2 separate regions of the Homo sapiens genome follow, and region 2 is linked to region 1. The links come from fine-mapping of genetic effects on gene expression. A gene starts in region 1. The other region holds a variant in brackets. All regions are shown on one strand. Distances are between the middles of the regions. Region 1 holds the start of TNNI3 (troponin I3, cardiac type). Region 2 holds the start of MIR7975 (microRNA 7975).

Region 1 (8,315 bases):
CCATCTGGGATCGGGTGGCCGCGGGAATAATGGAAGCGCACAGTCCAAAGGACGTGCGTTGATGGAGCAGGCGGCGGGCTAGGGGGTTCGAATCCCAGTTCCCCGACTCCCACTGTGGGATTTGGCCTGGGGGCAGGAGGTGGCTTCTGCTTTCGGAGCCTCAGTTTTTCCATCCGAGAAACGGGGGAATCGTTCCCCTGTTCTGGGATGGAAGAGAGGGTCAATTAGAATCCGCTCTCCCTGCATCCCTCTCTGCCTTCCTCTGTCCCACCGCGTGCCTGGCCCCGCAGTTCCGCGAGCGGGATGCCCTGGAGGCCGTATTCCGCTTCTGGGCTGGCGGCGAGAAAGGGCCCCAGGCGTTCCCCATGAGCCGCCTCTGGGACTCGCGCCTGCGCCACTACCTGGGCTCCCGCTACGACGCCCGGCGCGGTGTCAGCGACTGGGACCTGCGCATGAAGCTGCATGACCGCGGGGTGAGGGGCCCAGGAGAGGGGCTGGGGGCCTGGACCCCTGGGTCTGAGGGAGGAGGGGCTGGGGGCCTCCTGAGTCTGAGGGAGGAGGGTTTGGGGGCCTGAACTCCTGGGTCTGAGGGAGGAGGGCCTGGGGACCTGGACTCCTGGGTCTGAGGGAGGCTGGTGTAGGGGTCTCTCCACGCTCGGTTCACTGAGGGCTCCCTTCTTCCCGCCCCCCACCCCAGGCTCAAGTCATTCACCCCCAGGAGTTCCGACGCTGGCGGGACACAGGCGTCGCCTTTGAACTCAGGGACTCCAGCGCCTATCATGTGCCCAACCGGACCCTGGCGTCCGGTCGCCTCCTGAGCTACGTGCGTGTCCACTGCCTGTCCTGGCCCACTGCTGCTGCTCGGAGTCCTAGGAGTCAGGGGCCCCAACATCGACCTCACCTGCCTCCTCTCTCCCTCCTTTTCCAGCGTGGGGAGCGCGTGGCAGCGCGCGGGTACTGGGGGGACATCGCCACGGGGCCCTTCGTGGCCTTCGGCATCGAAGCGGACGACGAGAGCCTCCTGCGGACGAGCAACGGCCAGCCAGTCAAGGTGCGCGGCGAGGCTGGGACTGGGGGTAGAGGTGGGGCTGGGGGTCGGTGGGTGCGCAAGGCCCCGCCCCCACAGCAGGCCCCGCCCCCAGCTCCAGACCCCGCCCGTCGCTTGGTGGGAACGACTCCATTCAGAGAACAGGCCCCATCCCCGCGGGATAGGTCCCGCCCCACTTCACATCCTCCAAGCAGCTGCGGGAGTTCTAGTCCTGGACCGAGGACTCCCAGCGTTCTAAGCCCCGCCCCGCCATCCTGGCCCCGACGTCTGGCCACGCCCCTTCTACTGTTAGACGGCCGGGGAGATCACTCAACACAACGTGACGGAGCTGCTCCGCGACGTGGCCGCCTGGGGGCGCGCGAGAGCCACCGGGGGGGACCTGGAGGAGCAGCAGCACGCGGAGGGAAGCCCGGAGCCAGGGACTCCAGGTAAGCCAGGGACAACAACAGGTAAGCCAGGGACTCCAGCCTCCAGGTGTTTCACACTGGAGTGTGGACTGACATGATTTGGAATGCCTGGGCAAGTGACGGCTTCTTGATATTCTGTCTCTTTTTCTCTCTTTCTCTCCCTTTCCTAAATTCTGAGAGCATGCTTAGAATTCTGAATTCCACTAGCAGAATTCTAATCTTATCTGCAGAGGGCTAAGCTATCCAAGAATATTCTCACAGGGTGCTGGGTCCCAGCTCCCCCTTGGACAGCCTCCCACACCCTGGATCCTGGCTGGGCCTCCTTCCAGCCATCCTCCAACCTGGCCCTCCCTGCGTGTCTGTCTGACAGGGCATGTCACATGTGGCCCTGGCCACCCACCCTCTTTCCCTCTCTAGAGTCTCAGTTGCCTGATCTGTACAGTGAGTCTCTGCCTGCCAGGCTGACCTTCCCAGAACTTTCCAGGAGCCTACCTTAGAGGATTTTTTAAAAAGCTGCAAGAGGACAAAAAGTGTTATCTCCAAGTCCTGTGTGCCTGCCCAGCTCTGCCCAGCTCTGTGTATCTCTCTGGTTTTCCGCCCTTATGGCTCCGCCTGTCAGAGGTGACCCCTCTATCCCCTTCCCCCAGCAGCCCCGACCCCGGAATCTTTCACCGTCCACTTCCTGCCGCTCAATTCTGCTCAGACTCTCCACCACAAGAGCTGCTACAACGGCCGATTCCAGCTCCTCTATGTGGCCTGTGGGTAAGCGGGGAGGCAGCTGTGCTCACAAAGACCCAGGATCAGGCCCCCAGCCCCTCCTCCCTCAGACCCAGGAGTCCAGGCCCCCAGCCCCTCCTTGCTTAGACCCAGGGGTCCAGGCCCCCAGCCCCTCCTCCCTCAGACCCAGGAGTCCAGACCTCCTGCTCCCTTCTTTCCCCAGGACCCAGACTCCAGTTTTGCCACCCCTCCTCCCTCATTGTCTGGGATCCCAGAGCCCCATCCTCCCTCCGGATTTGGAGCTGAATCTCAGCCTGTCCTCCGTCCTCTCTGCAGTATGGTCCATCTTCTCATCCCTGAGCTTGGGGCCTGTGTGGCACCCGGAGGGAACTTGATTGTGGAATTAGCCCGGTGAGTCAGTGGGGTGGAGGGTGGGGAACATCCTGGCTGGGGATCAAAATCTGGGTCCCTGACAGGGCGCTTCCCATCTGCAGGTACCTGGTGGACGTGCGGCAGGAGCAGCTGCAGGGATTCAACACCCGGGTCAGGGAGCTAGCTCAGGCAGCTGGATTTGCTCCACAGACCGGGGCCAGGCCTTCAGAGACCTTCGCACGTTTCTGCAAGTCCCAGGAATCAGCTCTGGGCAACACTGTCCCAGCTGTGGAACCCGGAACTCCGCCCCTTGACATCCTGGCCCAGCCTCTTGAAGCCAGCAACCCAGCCCTTGAGGGCCTGACCCAGCCTCTGCAGGGTGGGACCCCACACTGTGAGCCCTGCCAGCTGCCCTCTGAGTCTCCAGGTTCACTCTCAGAGGTTCTGGCTCAGCCTCAGGGGGCCTTGGCTCCGCCCAACTGTGAGTCAGACTCCAAAACTGGAGTCTGACCCAACCCCTAGACACCCCTTATCTCCAACTTCCAAAGTCAGGTTGTAGGATGAGAACCCGCTGATACCATTCTAAGTCCGCTGCTAGAGTCCTCAATTTTATTCTAATCATTCCCACTCAGTACCCGCCACCCCCACCCCGGGAGTGTTGGTAGACTTTCAAATTCCATTTCTGAGATTCTATGGTCTATTCCTAGAATTCTAGATTGTTCTCTCAGAATTCCAAATTCCACTTCTGAGGCTCTAAGCCCAGCCTAGGATCTGACACTGAGTCTCAGGCCCTTGACTTTGGCCCCCTTGTTCCCAGGCACCCTGTGGCTGACTAGGGGCTGGGGTGTCTCCTCACCAGGGCCTGGTCAGCACCCAGATGGTTCAAGTAAAGCAAGTTGTGTCCACCCTTCTGTGTGTCCAAGCGTCTTTCCTGTCCTATGTCCGTCTCCAGGGCTGGGAGAGAAAGGCCCAGGAGTGCTGGACAGAGGAAGCCAGAAACCAGATTCCTGGGTTTCCAAGTGGACGAGGGATGGATTTCCCAGTGCTATTGACTGAGAGCTAGCCCCGAGCACAGCTGCATCCTCAAATTAATCAACAACATTTATTGAGTGGCCTGGACTCCTGGGTCTGAGGGGAGAGGGATTGGGGTCCTGGACTCCTCGGTCTGAGGGGAGAGGGATTGGGGTCCTGGACTCCTGGTCTGAGGGAGGAGGAGCTGAGGGTGCAGACTCTTGAGTCTGAGAGAGGAAGTGTGCTGGGGGCCTGCCTGGACTCCCTTGTCTGAGGGAGGGGCTGGGGGCCTGGACCCCTGGGTCTGAGGGAGGAGGGGCTGGGGGCCTGGACTCCTGGGTCTGAGGGAGGAGGGGCTGGGGCCTGGACTCTTGGGTCTGAGGGAGGAGGGGCTGGGGCCTGGACTCTTGGGTCTGAGGGAAGAGGAGCTGGGGGCCTGGACTCTTGGGTCTGAGGGAGGAGGGGCTGGGGGCCTGGACTCTTGGGTCTGAGGGAAGAGGAGCTGGGGGCCCAGACACTTGAGTCTGAGGGAAAAGGGGGCTGGGGGCCTGGACTCCTTGTGTGAGGGAGTGGCCAGGGTCTCCCAGGGTCCTGGGACTGAGGGAGGAGGAGGTTGGGAGGTCGGGCATTCTCTGGGTCTGAGGGAGGAGGGGTCTAGGACTCCAGGATCAGAGGGAGGAGGGTCCGGATTCCTGTGCCCGGAGGTGGCTGGTGATCCAGCTGGAGCAGGGCCCACCCCGCCCCTCACGCGCCCCCGTTATCTGGCATAGTGGGCAGGGGGAGGAGGAGGTGACAGTATATTTAGTCTGTGTCCTCGCCCTTTATCTCAGTGTCCTCGGGGAGTCTCAAGCAGCCCGGAGGAGACTGACGGTCCCTGGGACCCTGAAGGTCACCCGGGCGGCCCCCTCACTGACCCTCCAAACGCCCCTGTCCTCGCCCTGCCTCCTGCCATTCCCGGCCTGAGTCTCAGCATGGCGGATGGGTGAGTGATGCCCCAAGGCAGTGGGAGTTGGGGGCGACCTCCCGGGTTCCCAAGAGGGGTCGCAGCTGAGAGGCTGGACCCTTGGCCTGCGAGGTAGGCGTAGGGACTCTTGGGTGAAGAGAGGAAGTGGGTTTGCGAGTCAGACTCCTGGAACCCAAGGAAGGGGAAGCGCGGTCCCCCGACCTCTTGTTCAGAGGGGACTCCAGGGGTCCCTTAGGAGACAGGACACAGCCCACCACTAACCCCCCTCCTTGGTTTCTCTCCTTCCAGGAGCAGCGATGCGGTGAGAGCAGCGGGCTAAGGCGTGGCTGGGACCCCCAGGGCCAGGGTGGGCGCTGCAGTGAGGGGTCTGGGGCGGGAGGCTGCAGCCCTAGCAGAGGGTGCGGTACGGTAAGGGCTGGGTGGGGTCTTGGTGGTGATGGGGTCCCCACTCCTCCTAACCCAGGCTAGGGAACCTCGCCCTGCACCAGCCCCAATCAGACGCCGCTCCTCCAACTACCGCGCTTATGCCACGGAGCCGCACGCCAAGGTGGGACGGGGCTTCCTGGGGGCAGAGTACAGGCGCCGGAGGGATCCAAGACCCTGGGAGTGGGGGGAGGAGCCAGGGCTGCGAAGGGGGCGGGGACTACGCGGAGGGGCTTCAGGGGCGGAGTTTTGCAGAGGGTCATGCTCGGATTGGTGACAGCAGCCTGCGGGCGGAACTCCGTTGCCCTCGGACTTGCTTAGGGATAGATGGGAAGTGCCTATCCAAAGGAAGAGACCCAGATTGGTGGATGGGAATGAGGGGCGTGGCCTCCCGTAGACTCAGGGCTCAAGTTGGACGTGGGCCCAAATCTGGACCGGCTGGGTTTGCTGGGGGTGTCTTGAGGTCCCCTCCACCGTCGTCTCCGAATCCCCCTCCATGATCCTTCCTTGCTCCATCTCACCCTGGCAGAAAAAATCTAAGATCTCCGCCTCGAGAAAATTGCAGCTGAAGGTGAGGACGGGCGGGACTGGGAAAGAGCAGGCAGGTGCTCAGGGGGCGGAGCTTGAGAATGGGTGGGGCTTTCGGGGTAGGTGGGCGGAAGTGGGCGGGGTTTGGCCGCTCGGGGCGTGGCTTTAGCGGGGAGTACTGCTCGGGGTGGGACGGGGCCTTGGAACAGTGGAGACCAAACTGGAGGGTTTAGAAGGGCAGAGGCGGTTCCCCACGCCTGGTCTTTATCCTGAAGCCCCGGGTGGGCTGCGCTTCCCTCCCACCCCTCTGCAGACTCTGCTGCTGCAGATTGCAAAGCAAGAGCTGGAGCGAGAGGCGGAGGAGCGGCGCGGAGAGAAGGGGCGCGCTCTGAGCACCCGCTGCCAGCCGCTGGAGTTGGCCGGGCTGGGCTTCGCGGAGCTGCAGGTACCGGCTCCCAAGGATGCGAGGTTTCTAGTCCCGGAATTCAGCAGTACAGCCTCTATCCCCTCTTCTGCTCGGGACCCAGGCGTCCAATATGGCTGTCCTTACCCAATTATATATGGTTCGTGGGACTCCTGGCCCCTAACACCCTTTGTGTGCAGGTCTGTGGAGTCTTGGCTCCAACCTACTCCTTCAGGACCATGTGGCCCTCCTATCCCAGACAGAAGCCCAAGCCCCAGCCCCTCCTCCCTCAGACCCTGGAGTCCAGGCCCCAGCCCCTCCTCCCTCAGACCCAGGAGTCCAGTCCCCAGCCCCTCCTCCCTGAGACCCTGAAGTCCAGGCCCCAGCCCCTCCTCCCTCAGACCCTGGAGTCCAGGCCCCAGCCCCTCCTCCCTCAGACCCTGGAGTCCAGGCCCCAGCCCCTCCTCCCTCAGACCCTGGAGTCCAGGCCCCCAGCCCCTCCTCCCTCAGACCCTGGAGTCCAGGCCCCAGCCCCTCCTCCCTCAGACCCAGGAGTCCAGTCCCCAGCCCCTCCTCCCTCAGACCCTGGAATCGAGGCCCTCAGCCCCTCCTCCCTCAGACCCTGAAGTCCAGGCCCCAGCCCCTCCTCCCTCAGACCCTGAAGTCCAGGCCCCAGCCCCTCCTCCCTCAGACCCTGAAGTCCAGGCCCCAGCCCCTCCTCCCTCAGACCCAGGAGTCCAGTCCCCAGCCCCTCCTCCCTCAGACCCTGGAGTCCAGGCCCCAGCCCCTCCTCCCTCAGACCCTGGAGTCCAGGCCCCAGCCTCTCCTCCCTGAGACCCTGGAGTCCAGGCCCCAGCCTCTCCTCCCTCAGACCCTGGAGTCCAGGCCCCAGCCCCTCCTCCCTCAGACCCTGGAGTCCAGGCCCCAGCTCCTCCTCCCTCAGACCCTGGAGTCCAGGCCCCAGCCCCTCCTCCCTCAGACCCTGGAGTCCAGGCCCCAGCCCCTCCTCCCTCAGACCCAGGAGTCCAGTCCCCAGCCCCTCCTCCCTCAGACCCTGAAGTCCAGGCCCCAGCCCCTCCTCCCTCAGACCCAGGAGTCCAGTCCCCAGCCCCTCCTCCCTCAGACCCAGGAGTCCAGTCCCCAGCCCCTCCTCCCTCAGACCCTGGAATCGAGGCCCTCAGCCCCTCCTCCCTCAGACCCAGGAGTCCAGGCCCCCAGCCCCTTCTCCTCCCTCAAACCCAGGAGTCCAGGCCCCCAACTCCTCCCTCAGACCCAGGAGTCCAGGCCCCCAGCCCCTTCTCCTCCCTCAGACCCAGGAGTCCAGGCCCCGAGCCCCTTCTCCCTCAGACCCAGGAGTCCAGGTCTCCCTGTTTTTGGTTCCCCCAACAACACACACCACGTTCCTCCTCCAGGACTTGTGCCGACAGCTCCACGCCCGTGTGGACAAGGTGGATGAAGAGAGATACGACATAGAGGCAAAAGTCACCAAGAACATCACGGAGGTGGGACGCATGGGCAGCTCGGGTACCTTCGGGGTAGGGTGAGATGGCTGGGACTTGGTCTCTGCCTGACCCCTTGCAGCTGCTTTTGGCTGCACATCCCAGGAGACCCAGGACAACTGTGAGCCTGGCAGGGCTGGGGCAGAAGGATGAGTACAATATAGTCAAGGAAAGCTGTTCTAGGCAGAGGGAACAGCACATGCAAGGCCATGGGTTGGGAAACAGAAAATAAGTTAGTGAACATGCTCAGGGCATCACATGTTGGTAAATTAGCTCAGGCACTGGCCAGGGAATTGTGATTTGCATGTAGCTGGACCAGGTTATGCCAGTGGTTTTGAGAGGTGAGGCTGGAGCATATGAGGAGGGGGATTCAGTTCCAGGATTAGAAGCCTAGACTGGGAGCCTAAGCCGGGAAGAGACTGGTAAGGCCTCGGTACTGGAAGACGAGATAAGGAGAATAAAAAAGGAGTGTAGGATGGAGGAGTTGGGTGTGCGGGAAATGGAAGGAGAAGTACCCACCCCCTCGTGTGCCCCCAGATTGCAGATCTGACTCAGAAGATCTTTGACCTTCGAGGCAAGTTTAAGCGGCCCACCCTGCGGAGAGTGAGGATCTCTGCAGATGCCATGATGCAGGCGCTGCTGGGGGCCCGGGCTAAGGAGTCCCTGGACCTGCGGGCCCACCTCAAGCAGGTGAAGAAGGAGGACACCGAGAAGGTGAGTGTGGGCTAAGGCCAGGAAAGAGGATGCTGAGGGGAAGGGCTGTGGGTGCCAACAACCCTAGGCCTGAGGGCAGATGGTGCTTGGAGTTGGAGGTAGAAGCAGCTAGTAAGGGGTCCTCAGAAATGCAAGAGGAAGACAGGAAGTAGAAGGGGAAGACAGGAAGTGCATTAGGGCTACAGGAAGTCCATGTAAGAGCAAAGAGGTACATGAAGGTCCAGGTGCA
Region 2 (8,315 bases), 32 kb after region 1:
AAGAGGCTTGAGGGAGAGCCCCTTGCCCCTTTGGCTGTGTGAGGACACAGCAAGAAGGCACCATCTGTGAAGCAGAGAGCAGGCCCTCCCTCCACACTGAGTCTTCTGGCGCCCTGATCCTGGTCTTTCCAGCCTACAGACCTGTGAGCAATACATTTGTATTGTTTGTAAATGACCAGGTCTACGGTGTTCTGTTACAGCAGCCCAAATGGACCAACACAACAGTTGATTTTCTTTTTCTTTCTTTCTTTTTTTGTTTTAATTTCTTTTTCTTTTTCTTTTTTTTTTTTTTTGAGATGGAGTCTCGCTCTGTCACCAGGTTGGAGTGCAGTGGCGCAATCTCAGCTCACTGCAAGCTCCCACTCCCTGGTTCAAGCGATTCTCCTGCCTCAGCCTCCCAAGTACCTGGGATTACAGGCCCGTGCCAACACACCCAGCTAATTTTTTTTTTTTTTTGTATTTTTAGTAGAGACGGGGTTTCACCATGTTGGCCAGGATGGTCTTGATCTCCTGATATCGTGATCCTCCCACCTCATCCTCCCAAAGTGCTGGGATTACAGGCGTGAGCCACCGTGCCCGGCCTTCTTCTTTTTTTGAGACAGGGTCTCCCTCTGTCACCCAGGCTAGAGTGCAGTGGTGCAATCACAGCTCACTGCGGCCTCAACCTCCTGGGCTCAAGCAGTCTTCCCGCTTCAGCCTTTCAAAATGCTGGGATTGCAGGTGTGAGCCACTTTGCCTGGCTGACAATAGTTGATTTCTTTCACATGTAAAAGTCTGAGTTGGGATGATGGCTCTGTTTTGTAACATTGCCTGGGTCCAAGCTCATCCTACTGTGTAGCTCCTTTCCCCAGGGGGTTGCCTTTGCCCATAGGGTAAGATAGTTCCCACTCTGTTTCAGACCGCAGACTGGGGTAAAATGGAAGGAGACATGTTTACTCCTACTCAGTCTCATTGACAGAAGTTAATTACATTATCATACCCAGTTGGTAGGGATGCTGGTGTCCCGTGCGTCTGTGGGAAGAGACCACCAAACAGGCTTTGTGTGAGCAACAAGGCTGTTTATTTCACCTGGGTGCAGGTGGGCTGAGTCTGAAAAGGGAGTCAGCAAAGGATGGTGGGATTATCATTAGTTCTTACAGGTTTGAGATGGGCGTACAAAGTACATTCAAGGGCGGGGAGAATATTACAAAGTACCTTCTTAAGGGTGGGGCAGAATATATGGTATCAGTTAGTGGGGCAGGAACAAATCACAGTGGTGGAATGTCATCAGTTAAGGCTATTTTCACTTCTTTTGTGGATCTTCGGTTGCTTCAGGCCATCTGGATGTGTACGTGCAGGTCACAGGGGATATGATGGCTTAGCTTAGGCTCAGAGGCCTGATATTCCTGTCTTATATTAATAAGAAAAACAAAACAAAATAGTGGTGAAGTGTTCGGGCGGTGAAAATTTTTGGGGGTGGTATGGAGAGATAACGGACGATGTTTCTCAGGGCTGCTTCGAGTGGGATTGGGGCAGCGTGGGAACCTAGAGTGGGAGAGATTAAACTGAAGAAAGATTTTGGGGTAAGGGGTGATACTGGGGGTTGTTAGAAGGAGCATTTGTCCTTCTAGAATTACTGGTGATGGCCTGGATGCGGTTTTGTATAAATTGAGAAACTAAACAGAAGACACAAGGTCCAAATAAGAGAAGGAGAAAAGCAGGTATTAAAGGACTAAGAATTCGGAGGACCCAGGACATCCAATTAGAGAGTGTCCAAGGGGGTTCAGCATAATTACTTGCTTGGCTGGTGAGTTTTGGGGCTCTATCTTTGAGTTTTTTTGTGTTGTCATATACCAGGCCAGATTGATTTAGGTAAAAACAACACTCTTCATTTAAAAATATACAGAGTCCTTTTTTTTTTTAGCAGTGAGTAAGTCGAGGCCTTGGCAATTTTGGAGGAAAGAGAAATGCAAAGCCAGTAATTGTTTGTTAAAGGAGGATTAGAAATGGCTGGGAGAGAGTGAGATTGATAGTGTGGTGGAGATAGCTGGGGAGAGGTAGAGGATGGCATAAGAATGGGAACCAAGGCCGGGCGTGGTGGCTCACCCCTGTAATCCCAGCACTTTGGGAGGCTGAGGCGGGCGGATCACGAGGTCAGGAGATTGAGACCATCCTGGCTAACACAGTGAAACCCCATCTCTACTAAAAATACAAAAAATTAGCTGGGTGTGGTGGCGGGCGCCTGTGGTCCCAGCTGCTCCGGAGGCTGAGGCAGGAGAATGGTGTGAACCCAGGAGTCGGAGCTTGCAGTGAGCCGAGATCGCGCCACTGCACTCCAGCCTGGGCAACAGAGCAAGACTCTGTCTCAAAAAAAAAAAAAGAATGGGAACCAGAATAACAGTGAGCATAGAAGTAAAGAATAGGACTTCATCAGGGTGAAAGTATTGGAGGGTACCTTGCCACTGAAGATCTATCCACTTCAAGAGAGACTTAAGGCGATTTGAGGTAAAACCAGGAGCCACTAAATACCGAGAGCCTGAGAGACTGCTTGGGTGATTTGACTAATAAAGGCTGGTCCGTTATCAGACTGTATAGAGGTGGGAAGGCCAAACCGTGGAATTATGTCTGACAGAAGGGAAGAAATGACTGTGGTGACCTTCTCAGACCCTGTGGGAAAGGCCTCTACCCATCCAGTGAAAGTGTCTACCCAGACCAAGAGGTATTTTAGTTTCCTGACTCAGGGCATGTGAGTGAAGTCAATTTGCCAGTCCTGGGCGGGGGCAAATCCCCGAGCCTGATGTGTAGGGAAGGGAGGGGACCTGAGCAATCCCTGAGGGGTAGTAGAATAGCAGATGGAACACTGAGAAGTGGTTTCCTTGAGGATAGATGTCCACGAAGGAAAGGAAATGAGAGGTTCTAAGAGATGGGCTAGCGGCTTGTAACCTACATGGAAGAGGCTATGAAGTGACGACAGAATAGAATGGGCCTGTGAGGCTGGAAGGAGATATTTTCCTTGGTCTAAAAACTATTTGCCTTGTGTGGGAAGAGATTGATAGGTGGCAGTTTCAGTGGGGGAGTAGGTGGGAGTGACCGATGTGAAGGAGAAAAACTGGCCGTGAGGGGCAGAAGTTGGAAAGCTAGCTGCTTCTTTAGCTACCTTATCAGCATAAGCGTTGTCCTGAGCAATGGGATCTGATGCCTTTTGATGGCCCTTGCAGTGAATGACTCCAGCTTCCTTTGGAAGAGAAGTGGCCTTGAGAAGAGTTTTTATTAAGGAGGCATTAAAGATGGAGGACACCTGCGTAGTGAGGAAACCTCCTTCAGCCTATATAACTGCATGGTGGGGCAGAATATGAAAGGCATATTTAGAGTCAGTATAAATATTGACGCGTAGTCCTTTTGCAAGAGTGAGGGCCTGAGTTAAGGCAATGAGTTCAGCTTGCTGAGAGGTAGTGGAGGGAGGCAAAGCAGTATCCTCAATGATAGATGTGGAAGATACTATAGCATAGCCTGCCTTTGCTGGTGTGTGGCGATTAGGCCTGGTGGAACTGCCATCAATAAACCAAGTGTGATCAGGCTGAGGAACAGGAAAGAAGGAAATATGGGGAAATGGGGTGAATGTCAGGTGGATCAGAGAGATAGTCATGAGGGTCAGGTGTGGTATCCAGAATAATGTGGGAGGCCGGATTGAAGTCCGGGCCAGGAACAATGGTGATTGTGGGAGACTCAACAAAGAGTGAGTACAGCTGAAGGAGCCGGGGAGCAGAAAGTATATGCATCAGGTATGAGGAAGAAAATAGATTTTGAAAGTTATGAGAACTGTAGAGAGTGAGTTGAGCATA[G/C]TTTGTGATTTTGAGGGCCTCTAAAAGTATTAAAGCAGCGGCAGCCACCACACACAGGCATGAGGGCTAGGCTAAAACAGTAAGGTCAAGTTGTTTGGACAGAAAGGCTATAGGGCGCGGTCCTGGCTCTTGTGTAAGAATTCTGAGAGCACAGCCCTGTACTTCAGCTGCGTGTGATGAAAAGGGTTGGGATGAGTTAGGGACAGCTAGTGTGGGAGCAGCTTTTAGGGCTGTTTTTTTTTGTTTTTTTGTTTCGTTTTGTTTTTTTTTGAGACAGAGTCTCTCACTCTGTTGCCCAGGCTGGAGTGCAGTGGCGCGATCTCGGCTCACTGCAAGCTCCGCTTCCCAGGTTCATGTCATTCTCCTGCCTTAGCCTCCTGAGTAGCTGGGACTACAGGCACCCGCCACCACCCCCGGCTAATTTTTTGTATTTTTAGTAGAGATGGGGTTTCACCATGTTAGCCAGGATGGTCTCGATCTCCTGACCTTGTGATCCACCTGCCTCGGCCTCCCAAAGTGCTGGGATTACAGGTGTGAACCACTGTGCCCGGCCAGGGCTGTTTTTTAAGGAATGGAAAGGGGAGTGGGGAAAGGATTTAGGATTTATGGGGTCAGCTAGGTTTATCTAGAACAGAATAATGGGTTGTGGAGGGAGGTATTGAGGATAGGAGAGTATACGGGTTTGGCACCATGGGGTGGATAGGCAAGACAATGTGGTTGATAAGGCACAGATCCTGAACTAACCTGTAAGACTTGTCTGGTTTTGGATGGGTAGGATAGGGGAGTTGTAAGGAGAATTTGTAGGCTTCAAGAGACCATGTTGTAACAGGTGGGTGATAACAGGCTTTAACCTTTTTTTTTTTTTTTTTTTTTTGAGATGGAGTCTTGCTCTGTCGCCCAGGCTGGAGTGCAGTGGCACGATCTTGGCTCACTGCAAGCTCTGCCTCCCAGGTTCACGCCATTCTCCTGCCTCAGCCTCCCGAGTAGCTGGGGCTACAGGCGCCCGCCACCAAACCCGGTTGATTTTTTGTATTTTCAGTAGAGACGGGGTTTCACCATGTTAGCCAGGATGGTCTCGATCTCCTGACCTCGTGATCTGCCCGCCTCGGCCTCCCAAAGTGCTGGGATTACAGGCGTGAGCCACCTCGCCCGGCCTAACCTTTTTAAAGCGTGCTGTGGGATGGGATATTGGTGTTGAGTGGGGTAAGGGTGATTAGGTTTTAATGGGATGGTAAGGGGTGCATGATCGGTCACCAAGGAGGGAGTAGAGGTATCCCATACTTGCGGATTAAGGTGGGGAGATACAAGGGGAGGATGTGAAGGAGGCTTTGAACTGGGGAAAAGGGTGGCAATGAGGTGTGGCTGTAGCCCAGGAATGATCAGGGAAGCAGATAATTTGGTTATAATGTCTTGACCTAATAAGGGAACTGGGCAGGTGGGGATAACTAAAAAGAAGTGCATAAAAGAGTGTTGTCCAAGTTGGCACCAGAGTTGGGGGGTTTTAAGAGGTTTAGAAGCCTGGCCGTCAATACCCACAACAGTTATGGAGGCAAGGGAAACAGGCCCTTGAAAAGAAGGTAATGTGGAGTGGGTAGCCTCCGTATTGATTAAGAAGGGGACAGACTTGCCCTCCACTGTAAGAGTTGCCCAGAGCATCTGTGATGGTCCAGGAGGCTTCCGAGGTGATGGGGCAGTGTCAGTCTTCAGCCGCTAAGCCAAGAAGATCTGGGAAGGAGTCAGTCAGAGGGCCTTGGGCCGGAGTTCCAGGGGCTTTGGGAGTGGCTGCCGGACAAGTTGGACAGTCCAATTTCCAGTGGGGTCCTGCACAGATGGGACACAGCTTAGGAGGAATCCCGGGCTGCAGGCATTCCTTGGCCCAGTGGCCAGATTTCTGGCACTTGAAGCAAGATCCTGATGGAGGAGGTCCTGTAGGAATGCTAGACCACTGCGGCGTAGGCATTTTGAAGTTCTTGTGTGCTGGAGATGTGGCTGGGGTTTCTCTCACAATGGAGGCAAGGAATTGCAACTCAGAAATATGTTGCTATGCAGCTGCCTCTACTCTATTAATGTACACCTTGAAGGCGAGGTTAATTAAGTCCTGTTGTGGGGGTTTTGGAGCTTTATTTAATGTCAGGAGCAGATTGGGTAATAAAATGCATATTGAGAATAAGAGGCCTTCTGACCCTTCAGGGTCTAGGGCTGTAAAGGGCCTCAGGGGTGCTGCCAAACGAGCCATGAACTGGGCGGGGTTTTTATATTTGATGAAAAAGAGCCTAAACACTAACTGATCTGGGAGAGGTCGGATAAAGGAAAAGGAGCATTAACCTTGACTATGCCTTTGGCTCCAGCCACCTCTTTCAGAGGAAATTGCTGGGCAGGTGGGGGAGGGCTAGCTGCAGAAGAAAACTGTAAGCTGGATCGGGTGTGGGGAGAGGAGGTGATGGAAGGATTATAGGGCGGGGGAGAGGAGGCTGAGGAAGAATTGGAGCCTGATTCAGCCTGGTGGGGAGCGACCTGAGGAGGAGCAGCCTGGGGAAGAGGGGAGAGGTCAGATGGGTCGGTAGAAAAGGAAGATTGAAAAGACTCAGTGACGCTTGGGGTTGAGACTGAGGGGACAGGCAGGAGGGAAAGAAGGAGGATTTGGGACAAGTCGCATTAGGAACAGAGACTAGGGAGGGACCAATGTGTAAAAGAATGCCTGGATATCAGGTACCTCAGACCTTTGGCCCATTTTACGACAAGAATTATCTAGATCTTGTAGGATGGAAAAATCAAAATTGCCGTTTTCTGGCTATTTAGAACCATTGTCGAGTTTGTATTGGGGTTAAGCAGCATTGCAGAAGAAAATAAGGTGTTTAGGTTTTAGGTCAGGTGTGAGTTGAAGAGGTTTTAAGTTCTTGAGAACACAGGCTAAGGGAGAAGGAGGGTCGGACGGTGGAAGGTTGCCTATAGTGAAGGAGGCAAGCCCAGAGAAAAGAGAGAGTAGAGACATGGAGAGAAGGGGTGGGGGGTGCTTGCCCCCCAGGAAAGTGGTGCTTGCCACTAAGGGTGAAGGATCAAGGCAAGCGTCCCCGTGGTGATCAGACACCTCTGAAACGTGGGTGAATAATCAAGCAGGCGTCCCCGCAGTGATTAAACACCAAGGGAAGACTGTCTTCCCGAGTCCGTGACCAGCGCTGGGGTTTTGGGTTCACGTATAAAACACGTCTCCTCTGTCTCTACCAGAAAAGGAAAGGAACTGAAATTAAGAGAAGGGAGAGACTGAAGGGTGGCGCCAAGATTCAAAGGAGAAAGAGGTTGAGGGATAGTGAGAGAGGTTGTAGAAGAGAGTAAAAAGAGACTGCTTACCCAATTTAAAATTGGTGAAATATTCCTTGGACTGGTTGGTCTGAGGACCCGAGGTCATAGGTGGATCCTTCTCACGGTGCAAAGAGCAGGAGGACAGGGGATTTATCTCCCAAGGGAGGTCCCCTGATCCTAGTCACGGCACCAAATGTCACGCACGTCCGTGTGAAGAGACCACCAAACAGGCTTTGTGTGAGCAAAAAGGCTATTTATTTCACCTGGGTGCAGGTGGGCTGAGTCCGAAAACAGAGTCAGCAAAGGTGGGATTATCATTAGTTCTTATAGGTTTGGGATGGGCGTACAAAGTACATTCTCAAGGGCAGGGAGAATATTACAAAGTACCTTCTTAAAGGCGGGGGAGAATATTACAAAGTACCTTCTTAAGGACCAGGCAGAATATATCGTATCAGTTAGGGTGGGGCGGGAACAAATCACAATGGTAGAATGTCATCAGGTAAGACTATTTTCGCTTCTTTTTTGGATCTTCAGTTGCTTCAGGCCATCTTCATGTATATGTGCAGGCCCACAGGGGATATGATGGCTTAGCTTGGGCTCGGAGGCCCGACACTGGGATATGTAACCATTATTCTAGATGGCTATGCTAAACCCAGCATAATCAGAGGTTCCATTTTGTTGAGAAAGAAGGGGACAACGAATATTGGGCAACAATTTGTCATCTCTGCCACTGAAACCACTGCTTCTCTGTCCACTACATTTTATCAAAGGCAGAGTGTCTTGCAATCAGCTTGACTTGCAAGAGGCTCAAAGGCCTCTTGGAATGCCTTGCATCAGTTTGCTTTTGTGGCATAAAAAGTTACCCCAGGTGGGCGCAGTGGCTCACCCCTGCCTGTAATCCCAGCACTTTGGGAGGCTGAGGCGGGTGGATCACTTGAGGCCAGGAGTTCAAGACCAGCCTGGTCAGCATAGTGAAACCCCATCTCTACTGAAAACACACAAAAAGTAGCCAGGCATGGTGGCTGGTGCCTGTAATTCCAGTTACTTAGGAGGCTGAGGCAGGAGAATCACTTGACCCTCAGAGGTGGAGGTTGCAGTGAGCCGAGGTCATGCCACTGCATTCCAGCCTGGATGACAGAGTGGGACTTGGTCTCAAAAAAAAAAAGCAAAGAAAAAAGAAAAAAGTTACCCCAA

The links.
Region 2: its variant is fine-mapped to the expression of TNNI3 in lung (TOPMed, PIP above 0.99).

Annotation. Positions count from the first base shown.
Region 1 is chr19:55,153,801-55,162,115 of GRCh38, reverse strand. TNNI3 (troponin I3, cardiac type) reads left to right here and starts at 4,384. Exons shown (of 8, transcript NM_000363.5): 1 at 4,384-4,537; 2 at 4,808-4,820; 3 at 4,983-5,066; 4 at 5,472-5,513; 5 at 5,784-5,915; 6 at 7,286-7,375; 7 at 7,910-8,086. The coding sequence starts at 4,527. DNAAF3 (dynein axonemal assembly factor 3) reads left to right here. Exons shown (of 12, transcript NM_001256715.2): 6 at 291-473; 7 at 698-823; 8 at 929-1,051; 9 at 1,341-1,476; 10 at 2,103-2,217; 11 at 2,509-2,583; 12 at 2,667-3,451. The coding sequence ends at 3,054. DNAAF3-AS1 (DNAAF3 antisense RNA 1) reads right to left here and starts at 2,807. Exons shown (of 4, transcript XR_007067345.1): 1 at 2,671-2,807; 2 at 902-1,070. RefSeq lists enhancers at 438-1,364, 4,606-5,193 and a silencer at 1,380-1,489.
Region 2 is chr19:55,122,223-55,130,537 of GRCh38, reverse strand. MIR7975 (microRNA 7975) reads left to right here and starts at 7,246; the gene lies at 7,246-7,313. The variant G/C (reference allele first, on the strand shown) is at 3,822.